Homo sapiens: one gene and its partners. The protein of the gene in region 1 purifies or fractionates together with the protein of each later gene. This does not show direct contact. Each region holds a gene or a part of one and is shown in the gene's direction. Other genes may lie near its edges. The genes, in order: SH2D2A, HAVCR2 and PEAK1.

What was found.
Region 2: the proteins of SH2D2A (region 1) and HAVCR2 purify together in Homo sapiens (co-immunoprecipitation; one study listed by IntAct). This does not show direct contact.
Region 3: the proteins of SH2D2A (region 1) and PEAK1 purify together in Homo sapiens (affinity purification with mass spectrometry; 3 studies listed by BioGRID and IntAct, with this or other methods). This does not show direct contact.

The regions. Positions count from the first base shown.
Region 1 is NC_000001.11:156,810,349-156,813,848, reverse strand, and holds part of SH2D2A (SH2 domain-containing protein 2A), read left to right. Parts: coding exon 1-1; intron 2-3,500. UniProt on the Homo sapiens protein: Could be a T-cell-specific adapter protein involved in the control of T-cell activation. May play a role in the CD4-p56-LCK-dependent signal transduction pathway. Could also play an important role in normal and pathological angiogenesis.
Region 2 is NC_000005.10:157,095,403-157,099,128, reverse strand, and holds part of HAVCR2 (hepatitis A virus cellular receptor 2 precursor), read left to right. Parts: intron 1-227; coding exon 228-271; intron 272-3,669; coding exon 3,670-3,726. UniProt on the Homo sapiens protein: Cell surface receptor implicated in modulating innate and adaptive immune responses. Generally accepted to have an inhibiting function.
Region 3 is NC_000015.10:77,130,077-77,133,802, reverse strand, and holds part of PEAK1 (inactive tyrosine-protein kinase PEAK1), read left to right. Parts: intron 1-52; coding exon 53-798; intron 799-3,726. UniProt on the Homo sapiens protein: Probable catalytically inactive kinase. Scaffolding protein that regulates the cytoskeleton to control cell spreading and migration by modulating focal adhesion dynamics. Acts as a scaffold for mediating EGFR signaling.

The DNA.
Region 1 (3,500 bases):
GGTACGCGCCCCAGACCCTGACCAGAGAGCCCAGGGTCTCGGGCCAGCGCCCCTCCCGCTCAGAGCCCAGGCGCAGGACGCGGCACCAGGCACTTTCTCATCCCGAAACACCACTCGGGCATGCCTCCCTTACCCAGGCATCTTCATCTTCATGGGAGGGTGGCAGGCCCTTCGAGAAATATGAGTGCTGGGGGACCGTCCTTAAGAGACCAGCCCAGCCACACGGAGTCAGAGGGGCAAGGAGAGGCCAGGGGCACACAGAGTCATTTGGGGTTTTGTTTTTTGTTTTCTTTTGCTTTGTTTTAGACAGAGTCTCGCTCTGTCGCGCAGGCTGGAGTGCAGTGGCGCGATCTTCTCTCCCTGCAAACTCCACCTCCCGGGTTCAAGTGATTCTCCTGCCTCAGCCTCCTGAGTCAGCTTCCCCCCTCTAGGCCCCATTATCCTCCTATCCCTAAGGCCTCGAATGCTGGTATTTTCCACCTGGTATTTTCAGCTTTGACTTCTGAAATCTGGAAGTCCAACTACTTACTTTCCCATCCCTGTTGCTGCAGTAGCAGCCCCTGCAGGCTGCCCTTCCAGGATGAGGCCAGGGGAGGATGCGGGGGTCTCCTGAATGGGACCCCTGAGTAGCTGGGATTACAGGCGTGAGCCACTGCGCCCAGCCTAGTCATTTGTTTTTTAATGTAAGAGATACTTACGGAGTACTTAGGGCCTACCAACTGCTGGCAGGCCCTGAGAACAGACCCATGAACAAGACAGACAGATGGATCTCAAACTCACAAAGCCTACTTTCCAGCAGCAAAAACAGACAAGTAATAGAAATCCAGGGTGGAGACTGTGATTCAAGAAGAAATACAGGGTACCATTTAGCCTAGCAGGCAGCGGTGCACAAGTTCAGGCAGTGCTGAGGGACCACTGTGTGCCACGCAACTTTCTGCGCACTGGAAAAACAGGAGTGAATGTAAATGACCTGAATATCTCTGCCTTCAAGAGCTTCCATTCTAGAAGGAGGAGACAGACGAGTGAGTAATATGGATAACAAGCAAAGAAGACAGAGTCTGTCTAGTAATGATGAGTACACACTGACAAGAAAACCAAAGAGCTCCACCAGCAGCTCCACCTTCCAAGCAGACCCAGCCTCCACCCTCCTCATGCCTCCTGGAGGCACCTGCCTCTGCTACACTGGCCCAGGCTGCCATCATTTCATGTGAAATATTGTTGAAGAGTGACAGGATTGGGGCTGTTCTACACAGGGTGTCAGGGAAGGCCACTCGGGTAAGCGGACATCTGAATAGAGGCCTGTATGAAATAGGAGAAGAGCCATGCAGACAACTGGAGGAAAAGCATTCTCGGCAGCAGGCACAGCAGGTGCAAAGGCCCTGAGGCAGGAGGAGACTTGGTGTGTCTGAGGAATGATGGGAGCAGAGAGGAAGTTAGCATGGGTGGATCCGGTGACTGAGGGATAGAGAGGTAGGAGATGAGATCAGAGGGGTGAGGGAGGGGGGCCCTGTAGACTCTTGTATGCATTTGAAGTTTTATTCTGAGCGAGACGAGGTGGCACTGGAGACTTACAAGCTGAGGGGTGACATGGCCTGGCAAGTTTCGGGAGGAGCAATATTTCACATGAAATGATGGCAGCCTGGGTCAGGGTAGCAGAGGTGGGTGCCTCCAGGAGGCATGAGGAGGGTGGAAGTCTCCTCAGAAGGTGGAGCTGCTGGGTTTTTGTGGGATTGGATGAGGAGTGTGAAAAGATGGACTTGTCATTGACTGAGTTGAGAAAAGTTCTAGGAGGAACACATCCAGGCAGGAGGCAGGTGATCAGGAGTTCTGTTTTCTACACGTGCAGTTCAGCATGGAGATGTCAAGTAGGCAGCTGGAATTCAGAGTCTGGGGACTGGGACAAAGGGATGGGCTGCAGACAAATATTGAGAGTCACCAGCACTTAGATGGACTCTAAAACCTTTAGGAGGGGAGAAATCTCACTCGGAAGTCAGTGTAGGTGGGAAGGAAATGAAGCCCAGGTCTCCAGCATTTAGAGTTTGCAGAAATGAGGGGGAACTGACAAAGAAAACAGAGCAGAGCGCTCAGAAAGAGGAGAAAAGCCAGAAGAGTGTGATGCTCTGGAAGCCAAGCGAAGAAAGTGAGTGAAGGCGGGTGAGGGCAGAGGGTGGAATTGATACTAGGTTTGACAGAGAGGAGGTCATTGGTGACCTAGACAAGAAGAGTTTCACAGAACTTGATTTGGGTCAGTTAAAACAAGTGGGGACAGTGCCTGTGGTCACTGCCTTTTCTGTGAGGAACAGGCAGAGACCTGAGATTCACAGGGCGTAGGGAAGTCTGGGGGTGAGGAGGAGCCAGCCTGACCTGAGAAGCCTGAAGGCAGAGCTGTAGAAGTCTGAGATCACACAGAGTCTTGTCACTCAAGCTCTCAGGAGTCTGACTTATTCTGGGGCAATGGGCTGCCACCCAAGGATTGCTAGGGGAGTTTCTGTAAGATTGCTCTGCTCGAAGACTGGAGAGTGGATTGGAAGGGCAAGACGATGCAGGGGGAGGAGTCAGGAGGCCTGAACTAGGGTGCTGGCCATGTGCATGGAGAAAAGTACTCAGATGTGAACGATATTTAGACAGTGGAAGGAGCAGGACTTGTGTTTGATTTCATGTCAAGAGGGAGGAGGTGGAGGCATCAAGGATGACTCCTAAGGTGCTGTTTCGGCAGCAGGGTGGAGGTGCTACTTTTTATTCCGGAAGGAGATGCTGAGAGAGGAGGGGGTTAGGGCAGGAAAAAGAATTCTTTGATTTCCACAGTATATCTGCAGTACACCTCCCGATGGAGACATGCACTTGGTGGATTGCAGGAGCACAAGAAAAGCCCTGTGACCTTAGCCTACAGTGGCAGCAGGCATGGGGACAGCATTCATGGACCAAGGGCTAACACGGAGCTAAAAGCAGACCCTCTGTGAGACGGAACCATCCCACATGGGGCTCCTCTCTCCTGAGGTGGTCTCTGCCCTTAAAAATGTTAGCTTATGGCCGGGCGCAGTGGCTCACACCTGTAATCCCAGCACTTTGGGAGGCCAAAGTGGCGGATCACCTGAGATCAGGATTTCGAGACCAGCCTGGCCAACGTGGCAAAACTCCATCTCTACTAAAAAATACAAACATTAGCTGGGTGTGGTGGTGGGCGCCTGTAATCTTAGCTACTTGGGAGGCTGAGGCAGGAGAATGTCTTGAACCCAGGAGGCGGAGGTTGCAGTGAGCCGAGATTGCGCCACTGCACTCCAGCCTGGATGACAGAATGAGACTTGGTCTCAAAAAAAAAAAAATAGCTTATATTTCCATAAAGTAACCGGCAGTACAGAAATAAACACAAGCACAGCTGTCATGGAGATTGGTCCCCATGTCAATAATTTTTCAGTTAAAGACGTGTAAAGCCATGTTGCATTTTCAGAACCACAGGCACAAATGGAATCTGGCCTGGCCCTGTGTTCCAGAAGAAATTA
Region 2 (3,726 bases), on another chromosome or scaffold:
TTCATTATCTAGATGAAAAAATGTGGCCATCCTAAAGTTGATTCCTGGGTGTTCAGTAAATTTTGTCTGTCTCTCCATTAATTATTGTGACAAGTACGGAGTAGAATTCATTTCAAATAGGATTATAGGCATCATTAAGATTTTTTAAAAACTTAGATAAAAGAAAACGTTCTTAACTATACTATTGGCTATTTTTCCTCTCTCTCTCTCTCTCTCTCTTTTTATAGCAGAGACACAGACACTGGGGAGCCTCCCTGATATAAATCTAACAGTAAGTAACTTTTTTTGTGAGCTATGTTGTACTCAACTTGGAGGGGAAATCATGGCTTTAGACTTCCTTCATGCCCACCTTGTCCTTGGGGTAAAAAGCCTTAAGTTCCCTTAGCTTCAGATTCCTGGGCTGTAACATGTTGATGATGACAGTTCTAACCTCATAGGCCTGCTGTAATGAAGGACTGACATGATGTGTGTAAAGTGCCTGGCATATAGTAAGAGCTTGAAAACCACAAAGAAGAAACATTAGCATTTTGTCCCTCTTATTCTTCAATTTCACAACTGTCTACCCTGTGGAAGGTTCAAAGATTCTTCATCTCCCTAGAATACCATTCTTCTTGCTTCCATTGCAATCCTAATGGGAAAGAGTATTTAAATTTATCTCTTTAAATATGGCAAGACACCAGTCAGGAATATTCAAAGTGAAGAGGTTTTTTTTTTTTTTTTTTAGACAGAATTTCGCTCTTGTTGCCCAGGCTGGAGTGCAAGGGTGTGATCCTGGCTCACCTCAACCTCCGCCTCCCGGGTTCAAGCGATTCTCCTGCCTCAGCCTTCCGAGTAGCTGGGATTACAGGCATGAGCCACCACACCCGGCTAATTTTTTTATTTTTAGTAGAGACGGAGTTTCACCACATTGGCCAGGCTGATCTTGAACTCCTGACCTCAGGTGATCCACCTGCCTCGGCCTCCCAAAGTGCTGAGATTGCAGGCGTGAGCCATGGCACCTGGCCTAATTTTGTATTTTTAGTAGAGACAGGGTTTCTCCATGTTGGTCAGGCTGGTCTTGAACTCCTGACCTCAGGTGATCCGCCCAACTTGGCCTCCCAAAGTGCTGGGATTACAGGCATGAGCCATGGTGCCCAGCCAGTTTTATGTATTTAACTATAAATAAAGCCATACCTTAATAAACCTCAATTTTACTGTCCCTGCTACCTTCTCAGAATAAAAGAAAAACTGGCTGGGCGCAGTGACTCACGTCTGTAATCCCAGCACTTTGGGAGGCTAAGTAGGGTGGATCACCTGTCAGGGGTTTGAGACCAGCCTGGTCAACATGGTGAAACCCCATCTCTACTAAAAATACAAAAAATTAGCCAGGTATGGTGGTGTGTGCCTGTGTAGTCTCAGCTACTCAGGAGGCTGAGACAGGAGAATCGCTTGAATCCAGGAGGTGGAGGTTGCAGTGAGCTGAGGTCGCGCCACTGCACACCAGCCTGGGCAACAAGAGCGAAATTCCCTCATAAAAGAAAAACCACTAGAAGGCAAGCTTGCAGCAATGACTTAAAAATTCTTTGAGGAGGCCGGGCACAGTGTCTCATGCCTGTAATCCCAGCACTTTAGGAGGCCAAGGTGGAAGGAATGCTTGAGACCAGGAGTTTGAGACTAGCCTGGGCCACATAGTGACACCCTGTCTCTACAAAAAATATTTTTTAAAATTTGGCCAGGCATGGTGCTGCAAACCTGTAGTTCCAGCTACTTGGGAGGCTGAGGCAGGAGGATCACTTGAGCCCAGTAGGTTGAGGCTGCATTGAGCTGTGATCATGCCCCTGCACTCCATCCTAGGTGACAGGGCAAGGCCTTGTCTCAAAAAAAAAAAAAAAAAAAAAATTACTTGAGGGCATATCCAGGAGCCCACATTTATTTGACTCAGTTTCTTGCTTGTGTATTCACAACTGATGCTCAGCATCTTGTATTTGCTCCTTCTCTCTTTGCAATCAAACAGTGCTTTTTAAGGACCTGTATGTGCCCACAATGCTTAATGCACAATATCTTGCATATAGGACTCCTGTTATTGCAGGAGTAATGTGTATTGAATCAATTTGTAAATGTATATTGAATAAATGGAAGATTTAACTTCCTTAAATTCATTGTTTTAAAAATGCTTATAATTATATGTGTGTGTGTGTGTGTGTGTGTGTGTGTGTGTGTGTTTTGTATAAATGGGGTCTCAATATTATTAGGCTGGTCCCTAACTCCTGGTCTCAAGTGATCCTCCCATCTCAGCTTCCCAAAGTGCTGGGATTATAGGTGTGAGCCTGGCCTATAATTATTATTTATTTATTAATTTATTATTTATTTTTGAGATGGAGTTTTGCTCTTGTCGCCCAGGCTGGAGTACAATGGCACAACCTTGGCTCACTGCAACCTCTGCCTCCTGGGTTCAAGCGATTGTCCTGCCTCAGCCTCCCAAATAGCTGGGACTATAGGTGCCCGCCACCACACCTGGCTAATTTTTGTATTTTTAGTAGAGATGGGGTTTCACCATGTTGGCCAGGCTGGTCTTGAACTCCTGACCTCGTGATCTGCCTGCCTTGGCCTCCCAAAGTGCTGGGACTACAGGCGTGAGCCACCGCACCTGGCCTAATCATTGTTTTTAAAGAGAGAAAAAGAGAGAACCCATAGACTGAAATTTTAGAAACAGGATTTATTTTGTGTGGCTCTCAGTTATCAGAAAATCAAGTTAACTAGAGCAATAGCAATAATAGCTACGATTGATTGAACATTTATTATGTACCAGGCCCTGTACTAAGCATTTTATATTTTCTCTCACTTAGTTTTCCTGATAACTCTACAGGATTACTCAGCCCTTAGTGGCAGAGCTGGGAATTTTTTTTTTTTTTTTTTTTTTGAGATGGAGTCTCGCTCTGTTGCCCAGGTTGGCGTGCAGTGGCATGATCTCAACTCGAGTACTCCAGTCTTTGCCTCCTGGGTTTAAGTGATTCTCCTGCCTCAGCCTCCCCACTAGCTAGGATTACAGGCATGTGTTACCACGCCTGGCTAAGTTTTGTATTTTTAGTAGAGACGGGGTTTCACCATGTTGTCCAGGCTGGTCTCAAACTCCTGATGTCAGGTGATCCGCCTGCCTAGGCCTCCCAAAGTGCTGGGATTACAGGCATTAGCCACCGCGCCCGGCCTCAGAGCTGGGATTTGAATCCACGACCGTCTGGCTGTAAAGTCTTGGCTATTGAATCACTGTCTTTTTGTGAAAAATAGACGTTTCATAGCAAGACACTAAATGTAAACTACTCTAAAACTCTCTGGGGAATCTTAGGGGATCTTGAACCAACAAGACTCCACTCTAAAGCCAATTTTTGCAGGGGCAGGGAAAGGGTCTTAAGAGCTCCTTCTCTCTTTTTTTTTTTTTTTTTTTAAGAGCTCCTTCTCTACCCACAACACAGAAGGGCACATTTTGTTTCCTTGCTAACTCCAAAGGTTAAGGGAGACCCTTTCTTGGGTTGGCTTGAGTGTTGGCTACAAGGTGACAGATCAAAGGTGATTTGAAGGACTCAGCCATCCTGTGATGTTGTAAAAGGGATGGTCCAATTCACAAATCTTGAAGCTGATTACACAAGCGATTTCTAGCTGTTTTCTGCTTAAATCCTGTTTGTGTTTCCATAGCAAATATCCACATTGGCCAATGAGTTACGGGACTCTAGATTGGCCAATGACTTACGG
Region 3 (3,726 bases), on another chromosome or scaffold:
GATTGAAAACTTTACTTACTCTTTTCTTTTTATTGCTTTAAAAACAATACAGGGCAATCTAGAGCAGCCATGATACCTCCCAAGCAGCCACGACAGCCCAAGGGAGCTGTGGACGATGCCATCGCCTTTGGAGGGAAAACAGACCAAGAAGCACCCAATGCTTCCCAACCTACACCACCCCCACTGCCAAAGAAGATGATCATAAGAGCCAATACAGAGCCAATCTCCAAGGACCTCCAAAAATCCATGGAAAGTAGTCTTTGTGTCATGGCTAATCCCACCTATGATATCGACCCCAACTGGGATGCCAGCAGTGCTGGTTCTTCCATCAGCTATGAACTCAAAGGACTGGACATTGAGTCTTATGACTCCTTGGAAAGGCCTTTGCGCAAGGAGAGACCTGTCCCCTCAGCAGCAAACAGCATTTCCAGCTTAACCACTCTCAGTATTAAGGATAGATTTTCCAACAGCATGGAATCCCTCTCCAGCCGGCGTGGGCCCTCTTGCAGACAGGGCCGAGGCATCCAGAAGCCGCAGAGACAAGCACTTTATCGAGGACTTGAGAATCGGGAGGAAGTAGTGGGTAAAATCCGAAGCCTTCATACAGATGCCTTGAAGAAACTGGCTGTTAAATGCGAAGACCTTTTCATGGCTGGGCAGAAAGACCAGCTCCGTTTTGGAGTGGACAGCTGGTCAGACTTCAGGCTAACCAGTGACAAACCATGTTGTGAGGCAGGTGATGCGGTTTACTATACTGCTTCATATGCAAAAGATCCACTTAATAACTATGCAGTCAAGGTAAGAAAATATTATAAATCTCATGTTAAGTCTTAACCACTACATTGTTACTGGGATGGATTCATTCTGCTTTTCTCCTTTCTTTCCTTCATTCTTCCATTCAGCAAATTATTGAGCATCTACCTCTTACCAGATACTAGATTAAGCAGGGGGCTTATTTATTATTTAAAGAAAACAGATACGTAACTTAACAGAATTACAACAGTATACTGCATGCAAAGATAGAGGTAAACAAGAATTCTATGGGATCTTGGAGATACCTTAACCCAAACTCAAGAAGTCAAAGAAGTCTTTTTTTTTTTTTTTTTTGAGATGGAGTTTCACTCTTGTTGCCCATTGTGGAATGCAATGGTGCAATCTCGGCTCACTGCAACCTCCGCCTCCCAGGTTCAAGCAATTATTGTGCCTCAGCCTCCCGAGTAGCTGGGATTACAGGTACCTGCCACCACGCCCCGCTAATTTTTATATTTTTAGTGGAGATGGGGTTTCACCATGTTGGCCAGGCTGGTCTCAAACTCCTGATCTCAGGTGATCCTCCCGCCTTGGCCTCCCAAAGTGCTGGGATTACAGGTGTGAGCCACCATGCCCAGCCAAAGAAGTCCTTTTAAAGTAGGTAACCTGGCCAGGCATGGTGGTTCATGGCTATAATCCCAGCACTTTGGGAGCCCAAACCAGGTGGATAGCTTGAGCCCAGGAGTTCGAGACCAGCCTAGGCAACGTGGTGAAACCCTGTCTCTAAAAAAAAAAATAGAAAAAATTAGCCAAATGTAGTGGCTCATGCCTGTAGTCCCAGCCACCCAGGAGGCTGAGGTGGGAGGATCACCTGAGCCCAGGAGGTCAGGGCTGAAGTGAGCCATGATCGGGTCACTGCACTCCAGCCTGGGCAACAAAGTGAGACCCTGTCTCAAAAAAAAAAGTAGGTAACCCTTGAGCTTTGCTTTTTGCAAGGGCTACCTAAAAATATGAGGTCTGTTATGTACCTTTCACTGCATGTTTCTGTCTTTTTTTTAGGCTGGAGTGCAGTGGCATGATCATAGCTCACTGCAGCCTCAGGTGTGTGCCACCACATGACTGATTTTTTTGGTTTTGGTAGAGGTGGTGGTCTCACTATGTTGCCCAGGCTGGTCTCAAACTCCTGGCTTCCAGTGATCCTCCCACCTTGGCCTCCCAAAGTGCTGGGATTACAGGCATGAGCCATCATACCTGGTTTATGTTTCTGACTTTACCCTTTACCAGCTAAGAAATGCTTGTCTACCTCTGCTCTGTAACTCCTTTGCTCCCTAGAGAAACATTTTTATAGAGGAGGATAACTAATGTTTATTGATGTTCCTGGAACTATATTTTTGTTATGTAATTTAATCTTCACATCAACTTTATGAGATTAAGATCTTTTTCTCCATTTGACATATGAGGAAAATGAAGCTCCAAGAAGTAGGCTGACTTGGTTAGGATCACACAGCTAGCAAGTGGTAGAGCTGAGTTTTTTGTTGTTGTTTTTGTTTTGTTTTGTTTTGAGATGGAGTCTCACTCTGTTGCCAGGCTGGAGTGCAGTGGCACGATCTTGGCTCACAGCAACCTCTGCCTCCCGGGTTCAAGCGATTCTCCTGCCTCAGCCTCCCTTGTAGCTGGGACTATAGGTGTGCACCACCATGCCCAGCTAATTTTTGTATTTTTAGTAGACACGGGGTTTCACCGTGTTGGCCAGATGGTCTCAATCTCTTGACCTCGTGATCCGCCCACCTTGGCCTCCCAAAGTGCTGGGATTACAGGCGTGAGCCACCATGCCTGGCCAGAGCTGAGTTTTAATCACAAATATTTCTGACTCCATAGCTGTATTTTGTCCATTGTGCCACTTATCAATTTCTTACATGTGGATTGCTTATTTCAGATAACCCACTTCTTCAAGACAGCTAAACTCTTGACATCAAGAATTCTTGCCCAGTTACATTCACTGTAGCAGAAAGCCATAGGTTTCATCAATATAATAAATAAAGTGTGGACTTTGAAGTCCAAAAGATTTGGGTTCAGATCCTGGTTCTGCCTCTTAGTAGCTTTGTCAATAATGGCACCCATCTTATGGAGCTGTTGTTTGGTTAAAAGAAAACAAAATGTCCCTAATAACTGTTCATTTCATTAACTAGCCACTAGCTTCTTCCCTAGGTTACTTTAAGAGAGTAACAATCTTTGAGCCTCAATTTCCTCCTCTTTCAGATGTTTACAGTGAGTGTAGGATCAAGTGAGATAATGCATATGAAAGGTTTTTGAAGAACACAAAGCCCTATATGTAAACTTAAGGTAGTGTCCTCCATTCCCATAGTCCCTTTTTACTGATTCTATTCACTGGTTCAAAACCAATTAACATATCTAAATGACTTTTACATGTTAATTAGGCTTAGAAAGACCAGATGGTATCTTAGCAAATTAATGGATAAGGTAACGATTGGCCTTACCTGTCTATCAAGACAGAATGTATGTTTGAAACAGACCTTCAGCTAGCTACCCTCTGCAGTTACAGTATCTACACCAGTTGACTGTCTGATGTCACTGGCAGAGTAACCCTGTGCTCCAGCTCACACTTTTTAAATTAAACTGAGGGATAAACTGTAAAGAGGGGGATCTGGATTCAAGTTAATACATTACTATTGAGTTTAAAAAGGTATTTTGAGATTCTATATAGCACTTAAGAGCTGTTATATAAATTGAGGTTATGGTGCCTTATCTATCTTGGGCCCTTATTGCTGCAAAATCACCAATGCAGGATGAGTACCTGTTTCAGAAAGGGACATTGAACTATCTGTTCTTTCAAAACAGTTGAGAAGTAGGACTTGACTAACTTTATGTATTATTGCCGTGGAATCTTGTCTCTTTCCCAAATCAGTGGTCTGGTATTGATTTCTTTGCTTATAATGATGTAAAACCAATCTCCAA